Regions from separate parts of the Homo sapiens genome. Here region 2 is linked to region 1. The links come from fine-mapping of genetic effects on gene expression. A gene starts in region 1. The other region holds a variant in brackets. All regions are shown on one strand. Distances are from middle to middle. Region 1 holds the start of CKMT2-AS1 (CKMT2 antisense RNA 1). Region 2 holds the start of CKMT2 (creatine kinase, mitochondrial 2).

Evidence for each region.
Region 2: its variant is fine-mapped to the expression of CKMT2-AS1 in minor salivary gland (GTEx, PIP 0.92).

The regions. Positions count from the first base shown.
Region 1 is chr5:81,296,032-81,307,535 of GRCh38, forward strand. CKMT2-AS1 (CKMT2 antisense RNA 1) reads right to left here and starts at 5,538. Exons shown (of 2, transcript NR_034123.1): 1 at 5,256-5,538. It overlaps ZCCHC9 (zinc finger CCHC-type containing 9), which reads left to right and starts at 5,556. Exons shown (of 6, transcript NM_001131035.2): 1 at 5,556-5,667; 2 at 8,710-9,110. The coding sequence starts at 8,727. RefSeq lists enhancers at 5,285-6,074, 5,638-5,737, 5,888-6,067, 6,075-6,864.
Region 2 is chr5:81,227,402-81,238,905 of GRCh38, forward strand. RASGRF2 (Ras protein specific guanine nucleotide releasing factor 2) reads left to right here. Exons shown (of 27, transcript NM_006909.3): 27 at 1-2,761. It overlaps CKMT2 (creatine kinase, mitochondrial 2), which reads left to right and starts at 5,921. Exons shown (of 10, transcript NM_001099735.2): 1 at 5,921-5,976. CKMT2-AS1 (CKMT2 antisense RNA 1) reads right to left here. Exons shown (of 2, transcript NR_034123.1): 2 at 10,164-11,504. The variant A/C (reference allele first, on the strand shown) is at 4,915.

The sequences.
Region 1 (11,504 bases):
TACATATTATATATTATACATTATATATAATAGATATATATCTATTATATATTAGATATATATTATATATCTAATATATATTTAATTATGTATAGTATATATAAGATAATAGATATATCTATAATATATAGTATATATCTTATATATACTATATATAATAGATTAATATATCTATATTATTATATATAATATTGGTTATATATAATAGATATATAATTATATGTATCTATTATATATATATATCTCTATCTGGTTTGCTGTACTTCTCCAAGACATACTGTTTAGAGATCTAAAAGCCACATACACTCAGTGTAGCTAATCTTCCTCTCTGAAAACTTGCTGGTGACTTCCATATAAAGCTTCCCTGGGCAAAACTACACAAGTGCCTTCCTTCATTTGCTCCTTGAGGAATTTAAAATCTGTTTTTTTTTTTTTGAGACAAAGTTTCATTCTTGTCACCCAGGCTAGAGTGCAATGGAGCGATCTCAGCTCACTGCAACCTCTGCCTCCGAGATTCAAGCGATTCTCCTGCCTCAGCCTCCTGAGTAGCTGGGATTACAGGTGCCTGCCTCCACGCTTGGCTTTTTTTTTTTTTTTTTTTTTTGTATTTTTACTAGAGACGAGGTTTCATCATGTTGTCCAGGCTGGTCTCGAACTCCTGACCTCAGGTGATCCGCCTGCCTCGTCCTCCCAAAGTGCTGGGATTAAAGAAGTGAGCCACCGCGCCTGGCCCTGTTTGTCTTCTTTACCAGATTCCTCTGGGGGTATGAACTGTGTCCAATTCATCTTCATAGAGCTCACCATTAGACTCTCACATCTTCCGGAATATATGTAAATGTGACTTTCTACATCTTCTTGGTCCATAAATGTTTCTTAAATATTTGTGGGACCTCTTTTCCTATGATCATTTATTTGCTATGCCATAGTTTTGGGCAGGTTATGTTTTTCCTCGTATGTGGTCCTCTTAAATTAGTTCATCTGAAATCATTAATTACTGTACTGTTTTTACCCAGACTTACTGGTAGATTATTTTATATAGTAGTTACTAAATCAGTACGAAATATTTTTGCCACTTGGTTATGTTCACTTTGACCTTTTATGAAGTACTAGCATAAATTTTTATCTCTTTTTTGTGTATATGTCAGCGTGTGTCAGTCTTATCTGCAAAAGCATTTCAGCTTATTGGAGAGGATTTTAGATCGAGTACATGTATTTATTTTTTACTGACTCCTCCTCCTCACCTCCCTGATCCCTCTCTCCAGTTGTCTGCAACACATTCTACTGTGAAGTTTTTCTTAAAACTTCCCAGGAAGAAATATTTTATCTGTAATCTCTATATCACCATAATTCCCTCACTAATTATAACATCAGCTTATTAGTGGTTTAGCAATCTGTCTTACTCTCACAGGCTCTTGGCTGCTTAAGGGCAGGGACCTCTCTGTCATTTGTATATATTTAGCACTTAAGGTACTGGCAAATAGTAGACATCAAAAAGTGCTTTTTCCTCACCTATCCTATTTTACAGAATTCCATTTGTAACTGCAAGACCTCTCATTGTTCCTTGGAATGGACAGTCTAAGGCCCGTATCTGGTATGATTTCCTCAGACATAAGGAGGAGGAAGTACGCATTTCAGAGAATAAAGGAGAGCTTGCAAATCTTGCCACTTGTTTGTAATTTAGGTTTAAGTATTCATTTGAAGCACTTAACATCCTAACCACCGAAACACATGATTAGGAACTCAAATTTGAGAAATACAACAAGATGGTAAGATGAGTCAGAAGGATACATCATTTTTGTGATTAGTGTTCCAACACTATTCTTTATCACGTTTAAGCAAAGAAGATGAAAGAGATTCAAGCTTTTTCAGAGGGTAACACAAACTTTATATTATTCCTATTCCTTATTGCCTAGGAACCTCAAGTAACTTCCACTAATAGGTTTCTCTTGCTCCACACTTCCAATAGATTTTCTTTCACTTCTGAAATAAAGCAGTATTGCTTGTAATTTTGTTACTGAGAAAACCAACAATGCAAATGAAAGCATGTTAGTTAACAAAATTCAGTCACTAGCATTGTGTTCTATGGCAATCACTTAACTTCTCTGAAACTTAATTTATTGATCTGTAAAACAAGAAGATAGGGTTTTAAGAGGTATGTATTTCTATGAGTCTATAATTAGAAATTCTCATGTGCTGTGTCAAAACTCCCATGGATTAAAAATAACTCTTTAATAATGATTCTAAATGTAATACACACCCATTAAAGAATATCTGTAAAATTATGTATAAAGAAAAAAACCCTCACAATCCTATTACTCATGGGCCTTATTGTAAGGATCCTAAAGCAGCTAAAAATATCACTGACAGGTTTTTAAGATGTCAGAATGTCACTGGTCTGGATCTTATTTTTATTTCCAACAGCAGGGTCATTAATTTTTTTCCTCTCTCTTCTGCTGTATTTTTCTGCATACTATAAAAAAGTTCAATAACTGCCCGGAGAATGCATTAGGTACAGTTTTCCACACAATCCTCTTCTCCAGATCTATTTTATGGGATCTCCTGTATGATCTAAAACACTATCCACAGTTGTTCATTGCTTAAGCTCTAATGGATAAAGTTTGAACACTATAATTTCACATTTAAAAACACTTTAATTTGGCAAAATCTCATCCCAGCCTTCCTTTCCAGATTCACTGTTCTCCGTTCCAAATTGCTCTATAGGTAAACTGGCTGCCTGGAGGCTGTTCACTCTAATGTGTGAGTCAGTTAGAGGGATGGTCCACCCAGGCTGGGCCTTGGACACTTCTAGTCCTCATCACCTATTGGTCACTTCATCTAGGGTGGCCAAGCGCCTAATATTCAGAGAGAATCTGGGCAAGAATGAAGATTTAAAATTCTAATGGTAGTGGTTTCAATTCCTGGTAATATGGAATAAGCACACTCCACTGTCTCTGCCAGTGAATCAAGCTATAAATCAGCAATTTGAGGACTGGAAAAGAAACAGCAGCAGGAAAATTGAGAAGACGACCAGAATTCCTTATTTAACATTTACCTTCCTGATAATATTGTTATAAAAAATACATTTACAGTATTTCAATAAGTAGATGGGAAAACTGAATACAAACATAATCCCTTGAACTGTAAAAGTAAATACTTTCCAAAAAAAAAAAATCGAATTTGGGCAAGGATAACTTAGTAAAGTGTTTTAAAGTGGATCAAGTAGACAAACAATCCTCTGCAGTATTTCAAAGTAGCAGAGCACACAGGTTTGGATTGAGATCTTGGTTCAAATCCTGACTCTACCTCTTATTAGCTGTCTGACCTTGGATAAGTTACGTCAGCTCTGTGAATTTATTCCCTCATTGCAAAATGGAGAAAATAATAGTACCAACCTCACAGAATACTGAGTGGACTAATTAGGTAACGAATGCAAACCATTAAGCATACTGCTGGCACCTATAAAATGTTCAGTAAAGTTAGCTATTAGTAGCAATAGTTTCCTCCGAATTCCAAAGGACTTATTCTACGCCCTATTTGCTCAACTACTAATCTTTATTGGACATACCGCTACAAAAAGAAATCGGTATGTTCCTTTGCTTCCAAGAATGAACGACCTACAGTTTAAAATGCAATATACCACTAAAAAGAAAAGTTTTAGTTAAATGCGCCCTCTAGTGGTATGTTATGTGTAAGTACCTTGCATCTACCAAAGATAAAACCTCTTCATGAAATGTCACTACCCTGAAACCAGCTGGTTGAGATCATTACAGTATGGGCAGCACTACCACACATCTTTTAGGAAGTTCCCTATCTTCAAGAGCTGGAAGTTGCTGTTGTTTGTTTGTTGTCTTTTAAAACTTTCTCCACCATATGAACTACGGTATTTGTGATATGTACCATACCAAATCTCAACATTCCTACAAGCACTGACTTTAAAATCCCTTCTCTTAAAGAAAACTGGGCCACTTTCTAGTTTGCTTTAAACAAACATCGCAAAGTACTTATTCTTCATTTACTTAACAAATACGAGGGCCAGGCGCGGTGGCTCACGCCTGTAATCCCAGCACTTTGGAGGGAAGAGGTGGGCGGATCGCCTAACTCAGGAGTTTGAGACCAACCTGGCCAACATGGCGATATCCCATCACTACTAAAAATACAAAATCTAGCCGGGCGCGGTGGCGGGCGCCTGTAATCTCAGCTACTTGGGCGGCTGAGGCAGAAGAATCGCTTGAACCCGGGACGCAGAGGTTGCAGTGAGCCGAGATCGCGCCATTGCACTCCAGCCTGGGCGACAAGAGCCAAACTCCTTCTCAAAAAACAAAACAAAACAAAACAAAAAAACAAATACGCAGTGAGCACCAAGGATGTACCAGGCAATGAGGATACAATAAACTTACACAATTATTGTGTAATTACAAATGTGAACCGTGTCATAAGAAAGTATAGACTGCCGTGAGCACACAGTAGGGGATTGGTCTAGTATGGGGGTAGGGGGCTGGAAGGCTTTCTTGAGAATAAAATACTTAAAGCCTTGAAGGGTGAGTAGAAAGTAACTGGAAGAAGAAAAGGAGTACCATACAAAGAGACTAGCAAATGTAAAGGCCTGGAGATGGCAAGGTACACACGGCATTTGAGAAATTGAAAAAATGATCCTATGCACGGAGCTCAAAGGAGAGACTGAGCAAGGTGAGGCTAGGGAAGTAGGCAGGGACTTCATAAGGAGTTCGAATTTCATCCTAAAACAATGGGAAGCGAAGGGAGAGTTTAAAGCAGTACAGCAGTACTGCTTTAAATGTAATGATTTACATTTTCAAAAGTTCCGTTCCTACGACACGGAAAATGGATTTCAGGGAGTTGGGGCAGAATGAATCCCCAGACCAGTTGTAGAACTACAGGTACAATATGGGACAAGGGAGGAGGTGCCAACAGAGATAAAAAGAAGTGGACAAATATTCAAAAGGTTAAATGGATTGAGCAAACTGTTGAGAGTAGTGGTCCTGGTAAATTGCATTTTTTCACTAGGCACAGCTGGTGGTGGTATCCATTTGCAAGAAGCTACAGAAAATGAGCCGTTTGGAAATCCAGGGTTTTCCTCTTAAAAAGAGAACTTGTTTGGCTACAAAGTGTTAACATTTTAATTGAATGCTCAACGAGCACTGAAGGGGGGACATGAGGCACTGCCTCTCACCCAAGAGAGCCCCCAAATGTCCTTTTCAGACTTTTATCACAGTGACCCACTCCCACCGCGCCTTTACCTTGCCTCTGCCTGGAATGTCCTTAACTCCCTCTTGCCGGCAATTTCACCAGATTTTTGATTTCTTATCCAGTCTCACGGGAAGCCTTTCCGGCATCTCCCACCCTACCGATCTTCCCGTCTATCTCGCCTGCTACACTGTGAGTTCAGACAGCACGGATTGAACTCTTCATCTTTTCGTGTCGGCGTCCTGCACAGGGCCATCCCATCACTAAGCGCGCCACAAACTCAGCCCAGTATTGACGCCCACGAGTCGCTTGTAAAGACCGTCTGTGACGCCGGAAGTGACGCGCTCTCGGGCACTATGTGCTTCCGGTCTCCAATACCGCAGGAGGGCGGTCTTCCCCGGCTCGCCAACTCGGCTGCTCTGGGGGATTCGTGCGCGGTAAGAAGCTGCGCGGTAGCGCGGTGAGGTGAGGTTCTCAGCCACCAAAGCTGCAGGGTCTCGTCGTTCGTTCCCTCTGGCCTGGCGGAACTTGCGTGGGAAGCTGGGAGGACAGAAGGCTTAGCCGCTGGGTCCCTGAGCTGGCTGGAGCGCGGGCTGTCTAGGGGCGGCGACCTCAGCTGTTGGGCTCCGGCTGCTGGGGGCTGTGCGTCCAGCCGCCCTGGAATCCGCCTGTGGGTGGGCCGCTTGGCTCTCCCACTTCACCCTCTTGATAACCCAGAGCCTCCCCCTTCCCACGTACGTAGGGGAAGGATAATCTACTTCCTTTTGAACAGCTTCGGTCCCCACTATGACAGTCGCATAAACTTCAGCGAAGAGTGCGCTGGTAAAGTGGCATGGAGTTTCTCACACCAATTCATTGGGTCCACCCTTCAGCTTCTGTGGAAGGGGTCTTTCTGTTACTAGGAGCTGAGACTTGGGGGGTTGCCAGGGATGCTGGTCTTAAAAGGTGATAATTTAGGCCGGGCGCGGTGGCTCACGCCTGTAATCCCAGCACTTTGGGAGGTCGAGGCGGGCAGATCTCCTGAGCTCAGGAGTTCGAGACCACCCTGGGCAACATGGTGAAACCCCTTCTCTACTAAAATACAAAAAATTAGCTGGGCGTGGTGGCACGCGCCTGTAATCCCAGCTATTCGGGAGGCTGAGGCCCGAGAATCGCTTGAGCCCTGGCGGCAGAGGTTGCAGTGAGCCAAGATCGCCCACTGCACTCCAGGTTGGGCTACAGAGTGAGACTCCGTCTCAACAACGACCACAACAACAACAAAAAAGGTGGTGGCTTAATACAGCCATGCTCCCCTTAAGAACTGGTATAGTTATGAGAAATGGTTGGGCCGTTTCGTGGTTGTGTGAACATCATAGTGTACTTGCACAAACCTACACAGCTGGGCCGTATGGGATAGCCTGTTACTCCTAGTCTACAGACCTGTACAGTATAACTACTAAATACTGTAGGCAGTTGTAAAAGGATGGTGTGTATCTAAACACAGAAAAGATACTGTAAAAATATAGTGTAAAAGAAAACATGGTACAGCTGAATAGGGCACTTACGCATGGAGCTTGCAGGGCTGTCGGTAGCTATTAAGTGAGTCAGTGAGTGGTATGTGAGTGTGAAGGCCTACGATATTATTTAGGGTATTACTGTACACTACTGTAGACTTTATAAATGCGGTATGCTTAGTCTAAGTTTATTAAAAATAAGGTAATAACCTTAGCTTACTGTGCTTTTTTAACTTTATAAACTTTTAAATTAATTTTAACTCCTTGACCTTTTTTTTTTTTTTTTGAGACGGAGTTTATTCTCTCTGTCTCTCATTTTTGAGACAGAGTTTTGCTCTTGTCACCCAGGCTGGAGTGCAGTGGCGCAATCTCAGCTCACTGCAACGTCCACCTCTTGAGTTCAAGCGATTCTCCTGCCTCAGCTTCCCAGGTGGTGCGCGCCTGTAGCTGGGACTACAAGAGTGCGCCACCACGCCCAGCTAATTTTTGTATTTTTAGTAGAGATGGGGTTTGACCATGTTGGCCAGGATGGTCTCGATATCCTGACCTTGTGATCCACCTGGCCTTGGCCTCCCAAAGTGCTGGGATTACAGGCGTGAGCCACCATACCCGGCCCACTCTTTTGTAATAACACTTAGCTTAAAATGCTAATGTGTTGTATAGCTATATAAAAATATTTTCTTTATTCCCTTACATTATTCTATAGCTTTTTCCTGTAAAAATTTTTTTTGTTGTTATAAACTAAGACACACACATTGTGCCTACACCGGGTCAGGAGCATCAATATCACTCTTTTCTTCCTCCACATCTTGTCCTACTGGAAGGTTTTCAGGGGCAGTAACATGAATGGAGCTGTCATCTCCTATAATAACTGCTTTTTTCTGGAATACTTATAATTGTCTAGTATTATGTACAGTACATCATTGTAAGCATTATGCTTGTATATGACTGGCATCCCAGGTTTGTTTACACCAGCATTACCACAGACATGAGTAATGTGTTACACTACAAGTTATGAGGGCTACAAAGTCAATAGGAATTTTTCAGCTCCATTATAATCATCTGAGACCAGTATCATGTGTGCAGTCGCTGTTGACCTAAATGTTATGTAGCATGTGACTAGCTGATGAATCTTTGATTATGGCTGAATGTTCTCATTCATTGCAGGAAAAAAATATCCTCCAAATCACTAGGTAGTATGTAAGTGACCAAAACTTTTTTCCATTTTATGTTGGAGCCAAATCATTAGTGTTAGGATAAATTACTTCTTTATGTATGTGCTCTAAAATGAAAAGTTATTTCTGAATATTAAAGCATATGTATTAAGAGTATAAAAACAAGATACAGATTTTGGTGTGAAATATATCTTATGATTCAAGTCATAATTTAAATAGAATTGAAGATGATGTGAAATCACTGGGCTGGAAGTAGCTTATACCTTGATTAGTAAGAGGAAGCCCGGGATCATCCTGTGATGGTAAACACTTTTATATGTTTTACTTATAACTTTGCCAGGAAATTTCAACAAACTTCATATTAAAGGACATGATTTCTGTATACTTAGTAATCTGCTATGCAAATTGTTGCATTGAAATGGCAGACGAAGCAAGAAGATTGGGAGAAAGTAGCTGTGGGACTTGGAGATAGGAAAATAAACAGCCGGGAAAACTGCAGAATGTGGGAGGAATAATTGCATTCATTGTATTACTATCTGATTTATATTTTATGAAATAATTTGGTTTCTTAAGATAGTTTTTCAATTTTAAGCACACCTTTTTTAACTGGTGTGGCAGCTTTTCTGGTAAGTGGTAGATTTATGTTAGAAGCATGTCTATGCAGCATATTATAGCATTAAATATGTATACAGATATCTAACTGAAATAAAAAGTGTTTTAATAATTAAAAGTTTAACATATGGGCATATGTGACATATAGTGATATAGCATGTCTCTTTAGTTTTGTTGTTTTTGTTGTTGATGGCTAACCACCCATGCTTGTCTTAAAAATTGATAAGGTACCACTGATGAAATTATGACCAGGTGGGCCCGAGTTAGTACCACATATAACAAGAGACCCTTGCCTGCAACATCATGGGAGGACATGAAGAAGGGATCCTTTGAGGGAACAAGCCAAAACCTACCAAAGCGTAAACAACTTGAAGCCAATAGGCTATCCCTCAAAAATGATGCACCCCAAGCAAAACATAAAAAGAACAAAAAGAAAAAAGAGTACTTAAATGAAGATGTGAATGGATTCATGGAATACCTAAGACAGAATTCACAGATGGTTCACAATGGGCAAATTATAGCAACAGACAGTGAGGAAGTAAGGGAAGAAATTGCAGTTGCTTTAAAGAAAGACAGTCGACGGGAAGGAAGAAGATTAAAAAGACAAGCGGCAAAGAAAAATGCAATGGTGAGAGCATCACTTCTACCATGTTATTTACTTTATTTAGCTGGAAACTATTCTTATATTCACACACATATATACCTTAGCCAGCTCTGGTTACCATTATGTCCCAGATTTATAGAGCATCGTTTTAAGGACTAGTACTTTTTTAGCACATATATGCTAGGCACATGATGTACTGGTTAATTATTACAACAACACAGCAAAGGTGATGGCATATATTCCCATATTATGGATGGCAAACACTGAAGTGCAGATAGATTAAATAACCTGTGGAAGCCACTTAGCTAGTAGCAGAGGTGACATTCAAACCCAGCCTGACTTCAAAACCTACGTTATAGACCAGATGTGGTGGCCCATGCCCGTGATCCCAGCACTTTAGGAAGCTGAGGCGGGAGGATCACTTGAGCCCAGGAATTAAAGACGAGCCAGGGCCACATAGGGAGACGCCATGTCTACCAAAAAAAAAAAAAAAAATTAGCCAGGTGTGGTGGTACACACCTGTGATCCCAGCTACTACTGCCAGCTGAGGCAGGAGGATTGGGCCTGGGAGGTCGAGGCTACAGTGAACCATGTGATCAACCGCTGCATTTCAGTCTGGGTGACAAAACGAGAGTTCGTCCTCCAAAAAAACCAAAACCTATCCTCACCTTCCAATAGCCCCTTTTTCAAATTAGCATTGAGAAAATGTCAAAATTATGAAGAAGATGAAGTAGAACAGGTTAAATGTGTGTGGGTCCCTATTACTTGGAAAGGATGTTCTTTATCTATGAAATACTGAAGCACAGGAAAGAGATACATAGGAGTCATACTAGTTAGAGCAGAGTAATAGCAGAATTGAAAGTCCTTGAGACTCCCTAGTCATTGCTTCCTCCCTCCCCCATATTACATTCAGAAGAATGCTGGGGGCAGCAGGTTTCTTTCTCTAATGCCTAGCCCTAGATTTTAAAGTATGTCAGGCAAAGGGGATGAAATACTTGGTATAATTATTTCCCTTCTCTAAGTGAGTTTCCCAAGCCTCCTAGTACACCACTTCATAAGAATGAGGACTTGTTGCTAGTTATTATACTTTTATTTTTTATTAGTATTACTATATGTAGAGCACTGTTTGCACCATTGCAGGCTTAAAATGTTAACAGCCTCTATAAATGTGTCTTTTGGCTGTTTGCAAGATTAGTCTATGCATTGTTATATTTAAAGATAGTTATTTAGAGATAATACTGATGAAACATTCCTTATGGATAAATTTGAATAGAAAGGATAACATTTCTGTTGGTATCAGGATAGAGTTTTGTGTAAGTTAACGATTTTTAAATATTTTAAGTCATTTTAGTTTAGTTGACATAGGCGGTATGGTGAATCACATACCATTTGAAAACATTTACTGTTATGACCGCTTAAGAAAAGCATTATGTTTGTAATTAAGTGGGGAAGGATATTGTTTTTTAAAAAGGGGAGTGCTATATAAATAGTATATGGCTTGTTATGACCTGTTGTTAAATTTACTTCCTTGGTATTTTTTTAATACCTTATACTAAGCATCGGTCCTTAAATGCTAATAAAATGATATGCTATAGAAATTTACAATCAGTGCTTCACAATCCCATCTACATTAAACTTAAGGACCATTCAAAAATGTTGTATTAGGTGATGATTAGGTTTTAAAAGAGAAGGCAGTGAACTAAGGCAGTAGTCTCAGCTTAGTAGAGACCACCTTGACTTCACCAAGAAGCCAAGACTTCTTATGGTGGTGATGCAGGTTTTAGCAGTAGCTTTTCCTGCATTTGTATAATAAATACAGCTTCTTTTTTTTGGACCAGCTCATTCTAAATGTACAAGTTACTGAAGAATTTAAAGGGACTCATTCTTTTTCAATATTTTATTAAGTAGGAAAAAAAGGACAGTTGCAAAATAAATGTTTTATTTTGCTGGTTGAATTTGCTTTTTAAAAAAACCTGTGCTTATTTTGAAAAAACATAATTAAATGACTATTTATTATCCAAGAAATATGTATATCTTTTTCCAGTTTAAATAAAATAGTTTAAATATCTGCCATCTTTGATTATGGTTGATGTTCTCATTTATTGCAGCAAAAAAATTCTTCAAATTTCTGTAAACAACTAACCATTGCTCAGTTTTATGTTGGAGCCAAATAATTCATCTTGGAATAAATTATTCCTTTAAAATGTATTGTGCATATATTCTAAAAATGAAACCTATTTCTGAATATTAAAGAATGTGTATGGCTGGGTGTGGTGGCTCATGCCTGTAATCCCAGCACTTTGGGAGGCTGAGGCAGGTGCATCAGGAGATCGAGACCATCCTGGCCAACATGATGAAATCCCATCTCTACTAAAAAATACCAAAATTAGCTGGGCGTGGTGGTGCGTGCTTGTAATC
Region 2 (11,504 bases), 69 kb before region 1:
ATTTTCAATAGTTCATATTAGCCAACAGTGTAGCACTCAACCCAAGGAGGGTTCCTTATGGATGCTTTCTTTTTCTTTTTTAAAGTTGCTTGTTTGTTCTCTTTAGTTTCAAATAAGAGGTTGACGCATCTTGATGCATGATGAGAAGCATGGGCTGTTTGGATCCTAACAACGCATAACTTGTGATTTATTTCTCAGTGCTCCAGAAACTGAGGGTTTGAAATAATATGTATCAGTTGCACCAAACACCTCAAGGTCTTGCAGAAGAAAAGTAAAGGTTAGCTTTCATGGCTCAAAAGCATAGTCCTGAAGGGTGAACTAAAACCGGGACAAATCTGTGAGAGGACCACACACATACTAGTTTCGGGCCAAACAACACGTGGAAAGGTGCATGCATTCTACTCTGCCTTGGAGTTGCCAGAGTCCTTCAGAGGGAAAGGGATGGTTCTGTGTGCACTTTTTCTGGAAGTTCGGACTCATTTCTTTGACCCAAATGTTCCAGAGACACTGCAGCCATTCTTATTAACAAAAAATAAGACAGGAGTTTCCAAATGCTCCTTCCCTTTTGGATCGCAGCTTTTCTTCAACTAGTGACAAAGCTTTTGCGCCTATTTCCTGCAGGATGTTGGAACTGCCCCGCACTGGTCATATTAGGCACTGTCAATTGCTATGCTGACTTTTAGGGGGTTTTTGTTTGTTTGAAAAACAGGGTCTCACCATGTTGCCCAGGCTGGTCTCGAACTCCTGGACTCAAGCAATCTTCCTGCCTCAGCCTCTCAAGCAGCTGGGACTGCAGGGGTGTGCCACTCACTAGCCTTTCGCATTTTTGTTTGAGAATTACACCACTTTCTGGAGTCTGCAGCCTTCCTGGAGCTGCAAGAGGGCAAGAGAGAGAGCTCCACCTCTGAGGGAGTGTCTGTTGATGACCTGCACTATTCGTGTGCCAGCTGGGAGAGGAATGCACATTTTAAAATCCCTTCAATTTGGTCAAATTAAAAATCCCCAAGAGCAATTTGCAGTGTTTTTTCTGGTCGTTAAAGTACCCATCCTCTTCTGCCTACACACAAAGCATGCATTCCCAGCTGCATCTGCCTCTAGTCCATTATGGAGACCCATTTCTAAGAGGAGATGGGAGGTCAACCTCTAACAGCCAAGTAGCGAACATGTATACTGTAAAATTAACCTAGAAAATCAGAAGAAAAATCCAATTTCATGCTTTCGAATGAATGCCCACATTTTGTACTGTCAACGAAATTATCTTGGAGCTTTTAGGGGATGCCTTTTCGTTATTAACTGAGACATCTAGTTTTGCTACAGGGACAAATCTCTTACCTAATCCAATATATTATTTGACAGATTCAGGCATGAAGTAAAACGTCGTCACTTTTCCTTAGTGCTTTTCTGAAGGAATTTAAAGACGGAATTTTAAACGGCCATTGCAATATTTTCAAGTGGCTCTCATACCAAGTCCCATTACTGTTTGTTAAATTTCAGTACGTCTTAAAGTACTACTTATAAACAAATGAAACTCAGAGAAACTGAATCACCTGGAAGAGAAAAATCCATTATGGTCCCATGTGGAGTGAATAATGATGGATCAGCACCCTTTCTCTCATGTTATTGTATAAGACGAGACTTTTGGGCCAGCAGCGATTGGGCAGCTTTTAAATTCTTAACTGAAAAGAGTAATGCAATACAGGGATTATTCCCAATAAAATTAACTTTTATTTAAAAGCAAGAGATTTTACTTAGCTTTTTTTTTTCAAAGTTTGATTTTATCCCCTTGAAAAAAAATCTCTTCACTTTAAAGTATAAAGGTTTTTAAAAATCCAATTGCAAAATGTATTATTTTTACAACTATCGAAAAGGCATAAAAGAGAACATACTATTTATGGCTGAAGGGTATAGCCAGGCTAATGTGCACAGAGGGAATCAATAAATAAAACTCTTTTTCATTTCAGTAAGAAATCAGATTGTAAGTTTAATGGCTCCATTATAGATACCACCGTGTAATAGAAGACTTAAGTCAATGAAATCTAATCAGTGTGTCATTTCTCAGCGGCCATTGGTGACTTAAAATTAAGATGAGGCAGAGCCAAAATGGAAAACAGTCATTTTGTTGTAGGTATAAACACATGAACGATTCAGAAAATTATTCATCTCAGCTGCCATGCAGCATGACATTAACATTAGGATTGATAGCACTAGTCTGATCTGCTCAAGGAAAATAATAGTTCTATTATACTTAATGATGTTGGTTTTTACACAGCTCATTTCATTTTTCACTAGAAAGCCAGTTATGAAAGAGAGCTGGCCTAGGCATCCCGGCCCTGAGTCCTAGGCCCAGTCTCCAACTGGAAAACCTTAGGCTGGTGTTTACACATCCCTGAGCCTCAGTTTCCTCATCTGCAAAACGGTGTGAATAGTAATCCCTGTGCTGCTTATCTCACAGGGCTATTGTGAGGACCAAATGGATTAGACTGTAAACTGCAAAGTGCTGTCCGCACATGAGGTCATCTGATTACTGTCCTCAGATCTCTTTTGTAGAGGATTTCAATGTATTTCTTTATCATTTGAGTGTGTGTGTGATGGACGAATATGTGTGTGAGTTTGAGAAGCATATCGTTCGTGTCCAGTTACTTTGCAAATTTGTGGACATTTGTGATTGGACAGAGGGGTTTGTGCTGTGGCCTAACACTTGCCAAGTGAGGTGTAGGTTATGCCTATATGCAAATTAAACTTCACCTTTCTTGAATATTCAGAAATCTCACTGGTTTCTTCATTTAACTCTTTTTCCCCCCATTTTTCTACATTGTCAACTTAAAACCATGAAATGTATACATTTAGAAAAAATAGAACTTAATTTCTTATAAAGGGTTACAATCTGCAGGCTGGAGCCTCTGGCCAAAGCCAAAAGCAAGCACTTCAGATAAAAAAGGGAGAGGCTGAGATTTATGCCCAACAAGATGAGCCTTACATATACATTTAGTAGGTTATAGGATAATCTTATGAATATTTATGAGAGGCCCTAATGCATGCATAGCCAGTAATCATATATGTTACATGTTACATACAACCCATGTTCACTTTGGGATGGAGACTTAAAATGTAGTAAAATTGGGCTCTATATGTCAAAAGATGGAACACAGGGCACAAAGACGCTTGGTGTGCAATCTCTGTAAACCGGCCAGAACCGGCTGTGGTCTGTGGTCAGTTATGAGGATGGAGTGCTTTGTAAGGCTGAACACTTGTCAGGGGGAAACTGCGTTGAGGGAAGGGGGGGTTCGCCACGTCAGGTTGTCTGTTGAAGTTGAGGAAGAAATCTTCCAGACATAGTTTTTCAGTAACTGGTTTTAGTTTAATTTTAGGAAAGAAAGTCTTGAGGCAGTTATCGAGGTGGGAGAGCGTTGGGTGTGACTGACCTCTTGCCTTGCCAAAGCTGTAGAATCTGGTTTTTAATGTTTCCTGGGGTCTCTTTTTACCACAATGAGTCTGTTTTGTTTTGCTTGGGGGCCTAGGGGCTTTATTTTTATTTTACATCTTCTTCATAGCAGTGAACTCCTTCAGATATATTATTTACTTCTAAATATTACTTCTAAAGTTCAGGGAGAAAAACAGTTTAGAAGAGGCCCTAAAATTCAAAGAATTTGGGGAAAGCTTTGAAATGATACGAAGGATCAACTAATCACACTTTCTTTGCAGTGCTTAGATTCTTCCTGTGACATCCCCAGCCTATATTTGATACCTCCAGGCACAGAGAACTCACTACTACCTGGAACAGCTCAGTCCATTGCACAGCAGCTCAACGCTCCTGAATGGGTGGTGGAGAGAGGAGAAGCCGCCAGGGTAGAGTCCTGGCCTAATAGTCACCAGGCTCCACCTAGGAGGGGCTTCTGAAATAAGACTCCTGTCTACCCCTAAAATAACTGCAGTGGTTATATGGATTACTATATATGAAAATACTTTAACTTCTATGAAGTTGTGGCAACATTTAGAGCTGATGGAATTAAGTTACAGTTGCTGGACACAAGAATAGACTAAGGAAAGGGGTCCCTCCTGCCCAATTCTGAAATGAGCAATCCAGGCTGGTGCGACAGAGGAACCCAGGTTCCTTTCATCCTATTACTTGCTCATCCCACAAGGCGTCATCCTTGCCTTCGAGGTCAAATCTGGGGCCTGCTCTAGCCACACTCCTGCTGGACTCAGGAACAGAAAAGAGAATAAGTCCAGGACATTTTCCTTTAAAGCAAATGATATGGCAGTCGCACACTTCAATTCTGTTCCTGCCCTTATGGCAGAAGCCAGCCACAGGGCAGCCTGGTGTGGCTAGAGCCCCAGAGCTTCAAAAGGAGTTGGTAACGATGAGAAGGGAATAGATGCCATGTGACAGGGATGGCATTTGAAAGATTTCCAGAAAGCCAGAATTTCTACTGTGAGTCCCTTGTAGAGATTTCATCCCCATCACACCACCTTTATAATAAGCTTGAAGAGGACCAGTCCCCCAAAAGAAGGGTGGTACCCTCTTTTCTCAACAATGACCCAATTTTTCTTCTGACCTTACTAACATAAACATTTACTCTATAAAATATAAGGTGTTGAGGTCGGGTGAGTGGAGGGGGCCCTAAATGTTGATTAGGCAATTGGGGAGGAAAAGGAGGTTTTTGCTATAACTGCCATTCTTTAAATCTACAATTCCATGCTCTTTAAAAGCCTTATAATTTTCTGGATCTGGGAGCTGGGCTATTTCAGGGTCAATGGATTTATTTCAGTTGGTGCCTGAACTGACTTGAAACAAGTGTGTGTGGAAAAGAGCTATTTTGAGAAGGAATAAACCGAGACTGCCCTGATGATAGAATATGCAAGCTGGTGGGTCTTGACTCCTTAAAGGATTATGAAATTAATTTGATTGGTCCC[A/C]ATCTTTATATAACCACCCCAATCAGGAAACTTCCCATCCCGCCAAAAGGCCCCCTCACGTGCTCTCCCTGTCAGTACCCCATGCAAAGGTAAAATAGATGATATTTTTAAACATGGGTCGTGTTTAAAAGAAATGGAAACTCCTTCAGAGAATGAAGGAGAACCACACTGGGTAGAAGGTTATTCCTGGGGCTCCACCCCTTGCTCCATCAAGTCCTCTGAGCATGAGCTGGGCTCTGAGAAGGAAGAGACAGGAACCAATTGGTCATGTCCACGTGGCCTCAGAAGCTGAGTACGTGACGGTCACCAGATGCCTAGGCAGGCTCCCTTGAAATGGCAGGGCTGCTGTCCAAAATCCTGCTGGGTCATTGCTATTTACAGGCAGCCTTCCCGGCGTGCGGTGGATATCCCAAGCGGGGCTATTTTTAAGCAGGGCTATGGCCTGCCGTGGGTTAAGCTGGTGTGGACAGAAAGCGAGATGATCTAGCCATCTACTGCAGGGGGCCTGATCTTGAACAGAAACCTGACTGTAATTGTCCCTGGATCCAGGTCCCAGACAAAGACGCTGGAAGGAGGTCCCTCCAGCCCCTGGCTCAGGGCCCGGTCAGCTGCTGGAGCCAGGCAGCTTGAGACATCCTCCTCTCCGACCTTGGCTTGAGGGGTTCATCCTCCAGAGCTCACCAGGGCCCCAAGGCTGGTACACCTGAGAGAAGAGAGAAACAAATCCCCCAACAGATGTGCAATTTCACCTGCTGGCCCTTCCATTCTGAGATCCAGAGCCCTGGCAAAGGAGCCTCCAGGACCAGGCCTGGGAAGCAAGACTGGCTCCGCCTTTTACGTTTCAGAGAAAGGGCAGGTGCTATAAAGGGCCCAGCGCCCACGGGCCTGCCTTCAAGGGTACAGCTGTGGGGGCCGGTGCGCCCGGAGGTCTACGCTGGGATTGGTGAGGTCCTCTGGCCCCGCCCCGCCAGGGAGGATTTCCAGGCCGGCCCGACCAGCTCGCCCTGCATACACTTCTTGGCTGTGTGCGCTCAGCAGGACGTGGGAGGCTCCGGCTTCAAGGTCGGTGAGTCCGTGAAACTCTGCTTTATTCCTCCAAAGAGGGGTCATGGCTAGAGCCAGTGTGAAGGGCCTTGGAGGAGTGGATGCCGGGCTGTAGACGGGGACCCCGTTAGGACGCTGACTGCGAGGAGGCAATGGTGACTCGCTAAAGCCAGCAGAGCTCCCGCCCTTGGCCGAAGCGACCCCTCCTCCCTGCACACAGGTGGGGGCAGCTCAGCACCAGGAGCAGAACAAATCAGCACGCTGCCTGCAGGGCCTCTTTTTGGTAGTGAATCAGGAATTTTTCTCGATGGAAAAAAAAATCTAAAGGCTGTATTTTGACGCTAAGTTTGGGACAACTTTAAACTTAAAGTGTCTTTCCCTTGTAATTCACAGAGTCTAATCCACTCATTTCTGGGAATGTTTTTCCCCAGCAGTCTCAGTCTCAAAAGACATGTAAATCAGTGACTTGGGATGAACTAACTAGAAAATTAAAATTTTGAGAAGCTATTTGCTCATAAGCCCAATAGCCAGGCCCAGTTTAAACGGGCAAATAGTATTGCTAGAGATTCAGTTTTGCCGTCACTAATACTAACACATTGATAATGAGACAAGTAACCGTCTCCCCTCCCCACCATCCTTACCTTTCCCACCGGAGGTTAATTAAAAAAAAAAAAAAAAAAAAAAAAACCTATGGAATTGGCCCCACGTGTTTCACCTGGGCAGAGGCCTGTTCTTCACTAGCTTGCTTGCTTGGTTGGTTGTCCCGGGGTTAAAATCAGTCCTGTTCTTGCCCCTAGAGTGGTCTGCCTTCAAATGCTCTCCTCCGAATGTGAGGAAGAGTGACATTTGACAAACAGACCAAAACCTTTAGGTCTCCTCAGTGCTGCCCTTTAGACCTTCCAGAAAGTGTTGCCAGGCTCGTGACCCCTCACAGTGTCAGCTGAGTCAAGTGAGGGGCAGTTAGTGGCCCTCAGGACAAGGTTACGCTAGGTACACCAGTGTGCTGTTTCCAGAAGGGCTGCTTTTCCTGTCTACGGCTCTCACATTTTCTCTGTTCTGAACTCGTGTCCTTGGTCTGTTCTCTCTGTCCTCTCATAGAGGCGAGCATGGCCACAGCATGTGGCCAGAGACTTCCTGACAGGCAGGCTCTTCCGGGAGGCTCTTGGCCTTGTTTGGCGGTCTGAGCACTTCACTTCCTCTGCATTGATAGGCACCTTTTCCAAAGACCCCAGACTTTGGAGTTAATCACGCCTGTGGGTTAAGGCACTGTCACAGCAAAGCACAGGAGTGCCACATGCACCCCATGGACTCTGCCAGCCTCATGACCAAATCATATCATTAGGAAATGGGCCATAGGCAGGTCAGTTTTCCTAAGGAAACTGTGGGTTGGGTCGGGGGGAGTACCATACAGAATGGGGAGTCCTGGGGTTTCAGACACAGGAGGGAGACTGACTTTGCCCCTAGCTCAGAGGCCCTGGGCCTCCATCTCTGCCATAGCCTACAGCAGGCTCCATTTGTCTTCCCAAAGGAAGCCACGTAGAGTCTGTGTCAAGCATTCTGGGAGCTCCTGCCCACAGAGCCAGGAATCCAGCAGCAACCCATGCTGAAGGTGACTGCTGGAGGTCACACTAACCCTTGCCAGGAAGCCTCAGAGACTCCCTCCCTTGGGCGGGGAAGAAGGCAGCCCACTTCACAGCACTTCAAAGGACTAGATGGCTCCTAGCTTCCTGTTTTCTTGAAAACAATTTACCCTTGAGGGACAAAGTCTGGTAACGGTCCCATGCCTTCATCACAGGAGGCCTAGGAAAGGCCTCTGTTTTACAGAGTAGGATTCTAAATATCTCCTTCCTGCCTAGGACTGTCTATTTGCTGAGTAGAACAGTAATGCCAAGAGTGCCCATTAAGGTTGGCTGCGTACTAAGTGGTTTTGAGGTAACGCACACCCTTTGCTATCTTAGAACTGGGAGGAGACAGGCATTTTCTGCGGCCTAGGAGCCTGGCATCGTGAGAATTTGTTCAGAGTGTTCTGTGGAGCTGGTCCAAGCCCAAGGACATCCTCTGTTTTGGGGTGGCTCTCTGGATGGAAAGCTGACACGTGGTCCTCCTCCTGCCCTTCCACCTGCCCTCTGGCTGAGGAGTTCAGACACATGGACGCTGTGAATGGCTGGACCAGAAATAAATCTGAGTCAGCAGAAAGGCAGACATGGTCCATCCGGGATGCCCAGGAAGAGCAGGGGGCTCGGGCTGGAGGCAGTGACAGAACCCAAGGCCTCCTCTTCACATTCTAGGATGTCACAGAACCAGAGAAGAGCATTAAGACCAGGATCTGAACTCCCAGTATACCTGCCTGGGACCAAGAAATGTACAGCTTGTGGCCACTTAACAAAAGGGCTTGATGTAGCTGTCGTTGTTTTTTTAATGCGGAGGGCAGTGTAGGAACAAACAGGATATTATTGCTTTTGGCTCTGTCTGGCTGTGCTCTTGCACCTCCCCATCGCTCCAAATCTCCCTGGCTTGGAGCCCAGGTATTCTGCCAATTTTAGCCTAGATGCTGTAAGCAGTGTTTTTCAATTCAGGAGTCATTGTGGTGTTCCAGGTTAGGGAAACTGAGGCAGAAAGCTTCTATGGGGTGAGAGCTGGAGACCACCTTCCTCTTCACACTGGCACAGCATCCCTAGCAAGGCCTGGCAGGCACATTGAGCACTAGAGTCAGAGTGGAGCGGGCAGAGATATCCCTGGCGTCTGGGTTACTTCAGCGGGAGCCTGAGGACAGGGAAAGAGAACAAGTTTATAATCTGCAACTTTAGAAGTCATATGCCCTGAGGTGACAATCCTGTGCCTAGGAGCTGCTGTGTTAAATGCACTTCTACGGTCTTGGGGGTTTGACTGAGTGGAATGATCTGTGGCACCACAGGTTTTAAGCCACAGGGGTGGTTTCCCTCCAATTGCTGGTCAGTGAAGGGCTGTATGTGAGGTGCTGCGGTCTGCAAGGAAGCTGAATCCAGTGCAAAAGACAAACCTGGGTTCAAATCCCAGCTCTACTAGTGTGCTGGCACTGAAACCTGGGGCAGGTCACTTCTCTTGAGCCTCTGTTTCCCCATGCCCAAAATAAAGCATACTTGGCAGGATTGTTACATAGACTGATTGTGTTTGTAAGGTCCCTTACATAATGCATGGCTCATGATAGGAGCTCATAAATGCTCAAAAAGAAGACAGAAGGTTTGACTCAGTCGGTGTATAGGGTTGGAAAGGATATTCCAGGGGAAAGAAAACACTCAAGCAAAGGCTCAGAGGTGGCAAAGTGAAGGACCTGTTCAGTGATGCCAGGAAGTCATTGGAGACACTGTTGGAGGGGTGGAGTCTGGAAGAAGAACTGGGGAGCCCAATTGGTTAAATCCATTTTGTGAACCCCGATGTTGGTTTTCAGAGGATGATCAGTAGATCTGAAAGTATGTGATAGACACCTTTGAAGTCTTGTCCGCAGAGATAGAAAATACAAATTAAAAGAAGGCAGCTGTGGTGGTTCACACCTCTAATCCCAGCACTTTGGGAGGCTGAGGCAGGTGGATCACTTGAGGTCAGGAGTTCGAGACCAGCCCGGCCAACATGGCAAAATCCCATCTCTACTAAAAGTACAAAATTAGCCACATGTGGTGGTGGGCGCCTGTAATCCCAGCTACTTGGGAGGCTGAGGCAGGAGAATTGCTTGAACCCAGGAGGTGGAGACTGCAGTGAGCTGAGATCGCACCACTGCACTCCAGCCTGGGTGACAGAGCGAGACTCTTTCTCAAATTAAATGAAACATTTAAATGCGAAAAATGTAAGTTAAAATCAAAAAGCATTCAGAAAAGGGGCAGGCCGAGTGCTGGCTGGAATAATCAGGTGTGGCTTTGGGGAGGGAGTGATGATGATCCCATAGCCTTAGGGTCATCAGGGGAAGGGACTCATTTATTCAGTGCCTACTGCAGCCTGTCCCGTCGTCTTCACAACACCTCACAGGGAGACCTCATCATGCCCATGATGGGGAGGAGCTGCTGAGGCTCGGGTGGGTACCAAGCAGGGTTCCTACACCTAGCGGGGCTTGGTAACATCCTGTAATCGGGGAGCTTTTTCTCATTATACATGTGAGGGCCCCACTCTTGGAGAGACTCATTCAAAAAAGGTGGAGCCTAGAAATCCAAAATTTTAACACACATCAAAATTTTCTTTTTTAGGTTTTTACTTTTTTATCATAAAGATAACACATGCTTATTTTTACAAGTGATACAATACAGAGTTCCATTAAGAGAAAATTAATCTGCCTTCTCCGAGTCCGTTACTCTGAAGCAACCCTTTTAGCAGTTTGATGAATATCCTTCAATACTTTTATGTTCATACAAATACATGAAAATGTATATGTATATATACATCATTGTTACAAATTGCAACCGCTCATATTCAGTCCTAAGCAAGTTTTTCTTTTCCTTTTAACCTAAAAAGGTGTCACAGATGGGCCTCCAGGTAAGTGGAGGCAGTTTTAACTCCTTTAATAGCTGCAGAATATTTCACCATCTGAATGCACCAGCATTTGTTGAGTGGCAGTGCTGGGCTTCTCAAACTATCTGTGGCAAAATCTCTTATTAATTTCTAATCCATAGCAGACTCACACATTTGTAAAATATGATAAAGTGCAACTATTAGAAAAAGAGAATAAGGCTGGGCGTGGTGGCTCACACCTGTAATCCCAGCATTTTGGGAGGCCAAGGCGGGCAGATCACGAGATCAGGAGATTGAGACCATCCTGGCTAACATGGTGAAACCCCGTCTCTATTAAAAATACAAAAAATTAGCTGGGCGAGGCGGCAGGCGCCTGCAGTCCCAGCTACTTGGGAGGATGAGGCAGGAGAATGGCGTGAACCCGGGAGGCGGAGCTTGCAGTGAGCAGAGATCGCGCCACTGCACTCCAGCCTGGGCGACAGAGCGAGACTGTCTCAAAAAAAATAAAAAAACAAAAACAAAAAAAAACCAGGCATATAAAATGCCAGCTCAAAATTTAAAAAGTAAAATGACTATCAAAGTGCTGTAGGTGTTCTAAATGCTTAATCTCAATTCCTGTACTTACATCGTCACGAACTGCTAACAGCCCACAGACCACACTTTGGCAGCATTGGTCTGGGGTCAGCCTTCCCTAAGTTGAAAAAATCACTCTTCTGTGAAGACCTTGTCACTTTTCACCACCTCCAAATTCAAGTCCCAGGTCTCACAGTTTGTTCCTTTGGCTATGGCTCCAGTGCCACGTGCTTTGGCTCCAACCTGTCTCTGCAGTCCCTCCCCTGCCTCTGCCACTCATGGCTCCTGCCTCTGCACATTCTGTCCACTGTATCTGGAAAGTCCTCCCTTTATCCACCAGGCAAGGTGAAGTGATAGCCCCGAAGATTTTTTACCTCTTCTAGAAAGCCCTCTCTGACCCACCAGGCAAATTTGGGTCTTCTCTCCTCTTTACTATTTTTGCTCTTGTCCTTTGGATTATAGTGGTAGGTTTTTATAGTGATCTGTCTCCCCCACCT